2 separate regions of the Homo sapiens genome follow, and region 1 is linked to region 2. Evidence: fine-mapped expression QTL. Tissue or cell type: fibroblasts. Region 2 holds a variant in brackets; the other region holds the start of a gene. All regions are shown on one strand. Distances are between the middles of the regions.

Evidence for each region. PIP is the estimated chance that this variant, and not a neighbour inherited with it, causes the effect.
Region 1: HDAC9 starts here. The variant in region 2 is fine-mapped to the expression of HDAC9 in fibroblasts (GTEx, PIP above 0.99).

The regions. Positions count from the first base shown.
Region 1 is chr7:18,494,540-18,497,227 of GRCh38, forward strand. It overlaps HDAC9 (histone deacetylase 9), which reads left to right and starts at 1,210. Exons shown (of 26, transcript NM_178425.4): 1 at 1,210-1,484; 2 at 1,723-1,785. The coding sequence starts at 1,764. RefSeq lists an enhancer at 939-988.
Region 2 is chr7:18,990,039-18,992,726 of GRCh38, forward strand. The region is part of intron 25 of HDAC9 (histone deacetylase 9); the gene reads left to right. Among named protein-coding and RNA genes, the nearest start is that of HDAC9-AS1, 89 kb to the left of the region's middle. RefSeq lists an enhancer at 1-445. The variant T/C (reference allele first, on the strand shown) is at 1,487.

The DNA of each region.
Region 1 (2,688 bases), 500 kb before region 2:
TGCTCTTGGAAGTGACAAGATGCTAGGATCCCTCTTTGGAATGTAAAATTTATCTCTTATATAGAAAGGATATAAATGTAGCACCAGAGACTATAAAACTCTGATACTATCTACTGTACTGTATAGCTGAACGCCACAATGTGTCTGGTAATCTATTGACTATCATAAATGCTATTTCTACAGAAAAGTTAGGAGGTCCATATTTCGGGCAACCAATGTATAGCTGAATGCAGAACAGTCATAGTTGGGTACTAACCATATATATGATTTATCCATCAACAGGTGCATATGCTCAGAAATTCTGTATCCATAAGAAATCAGACTACTTTCTTTTCCTTTTGCAAGTAAATTGAATTTAGCCTGAGAGGCTGAGGGGAAATTTTCACATATAAGCCACGGTTTTGTGTTTTGTGTTTTGTTTTGTTTATAGATATAGTACTAACTGGATGGATGCGATAAAATTCATAGGTGGTACTAAGATACAATAGGATTTGTGAAATGGACAATTGTCTTGCATAAATAGCAAGTAAAAAATCAAGCCTGTCCTTCATAAAAATTTTATTCTGGGGTGTGCTTGTTTTCCAAAAGTACCTCTGCTAAATCTCCTGTTAGTCCTGAAACTAGAAGGCAGAAAAGCTTCTAGTGCTACAGCCAACTGCAGTGTAGCCTGAGAAACAGGCAACAAAAATAGAACACCAGGATTGCTGTGCGTGGGTGAGGCAGAAACCACATTATGAGCAAAAGCTTCCAGTATTATTTTAGAACCAATACAGAGCTCTGTACTTCTCTCCTCTCTCTTCCAAAAACACATACTACAAAAATAAAATGAAATGAAATGTATGTGCATTTGCCCTCTTAGAATTATGATTCTTAATTTTTTTTCTTGCCTTCCTTTCTTTGGAAGCGAATCGCCAGTATGGAAACACAGTGTGTAAAGCAAGCTTCGAGAGAGGAAAGAGTTAATTGGTTTTAAGGCCCTGCGATAGAGAATTATGGTTGGAAAGATAGAGGCTGGACAGCTGGGTTTGCTGGGGTATTTTTAAATGCATTAATGCAGGCTCCAATCACTCGGCCATGCTTGACCTATTTTTGGCTCAGGCCGACCATTGTTCTATTTCTGTGCCTGTGGGCCATGCTGTTGTTGATTCATATGCAAATGGATTATCACTCGCTTTAGCCAACTTGAGCTGAGAGAGACTGAGAAAGGGGGAAGAGAGGCACAGACACAGATAGGAGAAGGGCACCGGCTGGAGCCACTTGCAGGACTGAGGGTTTTTGCAACAAAACCCTAGCAGCCTGAAGAACTCTAAGCCAGGTTTAATTGGTTTCTTTTTCTCGTGGGTAGACTTAATAATTTTCTACGTATTCTGACAAAGAAATAACCCCGAAGCACGTTCCTATTTCCCACCTGCTTGTAGTTTCCGGGATAACCTAAACTCCAGAGAGCTATAGCATCCACTCTGTCCTTTCTGCTTTGCACACAGGTTGGTAACATGGGAAAAGTGTCCAGGTCTTTTTAAAAGTGGATGCCCATTTGAGCAGAAAGGAAATCATTGTCGAAGTTGATCCTCTGCTGCTTCTCCTCAGGGAGGAGGGAGAACCAGCGAGGGTAGCTCCTGGGGCCGGTGCACTGAGCAGTGATGAATGTTTCATGTAGCTGAAGTAAGAGTGACTGGAATATGCTGCAGACAATTTACGAGAGTGACTCCTGTTTTTCCTCAGATGGGGTGGCTGGACGAGAGCAGCTCTTGGCTCAGCAAAGAATGCACAGTATGATCAGCTCAGGTAAGATCCTCTTTCATAACTGAGACGTTTTAGGTTTGAAAGGGGGCTGGCTTGGGAAATGCAGCTAAGAAAAGCACCTCTCTTAAGGAAATTGCTGCTTTTTCGTGTTGATGTTGCTATTTTCTTGGTGCGTCTGTAGGGTTTAACTTAGATCCCTTCCATTACTGTTTCTGTGCATATTCAGTCTGCTTAGGGACAGCAGCTTCTGAATGAAATTGCAAACTATTGCTTCTGATGAAAGATGAGACTGAGATAAGTAAAATGTAGTTGGGGGTGTTTTGCCTTTACTATGCAACTAGAAAAAGGAGCTGTGTACTGATTGTAAGCCTATTCTAATAGGACTTTAAAAATCAGGTAAGTTCATATTGGGGCTTCAGTTTAAACTGCAGCCCCGCTAGCCTGACGATTTTATATTTACTCTGTGCCTACAGAAGCACATCTATTTATAGACCTACCTTCTAAAATGTGTTTGCCACAGAGTTATAAAGGTAGTTTTCTTTTTTCCATTATGTGGCTTTTTCTCATCAGCCCCAAATGAAACTGTTTAGGATGAAATAAAATTGTTATTAGCAGATGCTTATTTTAATTTTCTTCAAAAACATGTGGGAAGTCTAGCATTGTCAGGCAGATGTGATGGCATAACACACATGTAAATGTGTTAAAAGCAGGTGCAGCGTTTTAAAGGATAATAGGAACAGATTCTAATTTCTAGTTTCTCAAGGAGATGAGCTGGTGGGAGATTGAGCTTGTCAGCCTTGTCAATTTATACTTACTAAATGAACATACTCTCCAGGCAGTATCACTTAACGTGTAATTATTGCCTTTCATATTTATTTCCTATGGCTATTTCCTAAAGCTTTGGGAACTCTTTGTTTCTGTCCTCTTCTGAATGTTTCAACCTAA
Region 2 (2,688 bases):
CTTCTTCTCTCAGCTCATCAAAGTCATTCTCCGTCCAGCTTTGTTCCATTGCTGGTGAGGAACTGAGTTCCTTTGGAGGAGGAGAGGCACTCTGCGTTTTAGAGTTTCCAGTTTTTCTGCTCTGTTTTTTCCCCATCTTTGTGGTTTTATCTACTTTTGGTCTTTGATGATGGTGATGTACAGATGGGTTTCTGGTGTGGATGTCCTTTCTGTTTGTTAGGACAGACAGACAGGACCCTCAGCTGCAGGTCTGTTGGAGTACCTGGCCATGTGAGGTGTCAGTGTGCCCCTGCTGAGGGGTGCCTCCCAGTTAGGCTGCTCGTGGGTCAGGGGTCAGGGACCCACTTGAGGAGGCAGTCTGCCCGTTTTCAGATCTCCAGCTGCGTGCTGGGAGAGCCACTGCTCTCTTCAATGCTGTCAGACAGGGACATTTAAGTCTGCAGAGGTTACTGCTGTCTTTTTGTTTGTCTGTGCCCTGCCCCCAGAGGTGGAGCCTATAGAGGCAGGCAGGCCTCCTTGAGCTGTGGTGGGCTCCACCCAGTTTGAGCTTCCAGGCTGCTTTGTTTACCTAAGCAAGGCTGGGCAATGGCGGGCGCCCCTCCCCCAGCCTGGCTGCCGCCTTGCAGTTTGATCTCAGACTGCTGAGCTAGCAGTCAGCGAGATTCTGTGGGCGTAGGACCCTCCGAGCCATGTGCGGGATATAATCTCCTGGTGCGCCGTTTTTTAAGCCCGTAGGAAAAGCGCAGTATTTGGGTGGGAGTGACCTGATTTTCCAGGTGCCGTCTGTCACCCCTTTGACTAGGAAAGAGAACTCCCTGGCCCCTTGTGCTTCCCAAGTGAGGCAATGTCTCGCCCTGCTTGGGCTCGCGCATGGAGCGCGCACCCACTGACCTGCGCCCACTGTCTGGCACTCCCTAGTGAGATGAACCCGGTACCTCAGATGGAAATGCAGAAATCACCCGTCTTCTGCGTTGCCCATGCTGGGAGCTGTAGACCGGAGCTGTTCCTATTCGGCCATCTTGGCTCCTCTCGATCTTTATTCTTTTGTTGCAAATTCTTATTTTGTTCTTGATTTAAATTATCATACTTGTAAAGAGCACTGAAATCATTCCAACATATGTATATAAACATTTCAAAAAGTATTTATGGGATGTCTAGTATGTATACAAAATGGTATAACATTGGAGGGGGGAGATGAAAAAGAAAAATGAATGAGGAAATGAAAGAACATAAAACAAAATTCACAAAATACGAACTAATATATGAATTAGTTATATATAAAATCAGTTTGTGAATACTGGAAAGATAAAGAAGTCATCAGGCTGGGCACAGTGGCTCATGCCTGTAATCCCAGTGCTTTGGGAGGCCGAGGCGGGCAGATCACGAGGTCAGATCAAGACCATCCTGGCTAACACGGTGAAACCCTGTCTCTACTAAAAATACAAAAAATTAGCCAGGTGTGGTGGCAGGCACCTGTAGTCCCAGC[T/C]GCTCAGGAGGCTGAAGCAGGAGAATGGTGTTAACTCAGGAGGCGGAGCTTGCAGTGAGCGGAGATGGTGCCATTGCACTCCAGCCTGGGTGACAGTGAGAGACTCCGTCTCAAAAGAAAAAAAAAAAAAAGAAGTCATCAGTGAGATAAACAGACTTACTTATGACACATACTTATGAAAGTCATTTGATTCTCTGTCTTTTACTTTAGCTTTTGTGGCTTACTAAAATTCAAATCTTTGTCCAAACTGATTAGTTATCAAATAAATGCAAATTTGAATAACAAGAAGGTATTGTTTTACATATATTAGATGGTAAACATTCAATTAGAATATAAGGTCAATGGAGAATGTGAGTTCTATGAGAGCAGGGATGTTTGTCTATTTTGTTCATTGCTATGTTCCTAGTGCCTAGAACAGAACCAGGGCACACAGTACACAGTCAGCAACTTTTTCTAGAATCAATGAAAAATATGAGTAAACTAAGTATTGCTAGCATGGGTGGAGATGTGGGGCTTTAGAGCCTCACTGCTTTGGGAAGATAAACTATGGCAGCCATGCTGCATACTAATTTAGTACCATTTTATATACACAAAATATATGACCTGGTAATTTTGCTCTTGGGAATGTATACCAAAGACATTCTCAGCATAAGTCTTTAGAGTACGTATACTAGGAAGTTCACTACAGCTTTATTCATGGTGAATAGAGAGTTGGAGTCAAGCCCAGTGTCCATTATTGGGAGAATGAATAGTTAAAATGTGGTGGATGCACTGTATGGAGATGCCACGTAGAAGTTACCAGCTTCAAACTAGATAAATATAAGTGCATGACAGATCTAGTAAATACAGTACTGAGTGAGAAAATTATGCACATGTGTATAAAGTTAAAATTTACATAAAATAAAAATATATACCCACAAAACAATAATACACAGCTTTAAAGAACACTTGCAAACAAAATAATGTAACAGGCATTGTATTGCTTGCCTTTCAGGAGGAAGAGGAGTAGAAGTAAGAAATAAGAATTAAATTAAATCAGTAAAATGAGAAAATGTTTTACTACGTAACAGTGTTAATATAAATTAAACAAATGCTATTTTTAAAACCACAAGAAATAAGATTTAAGAGAGAATACAAGAATTTAATTTAATACTACATCTTGTCTCAAGTGAAATTACTTCCTTTTTTTTTTACTTTTGTAA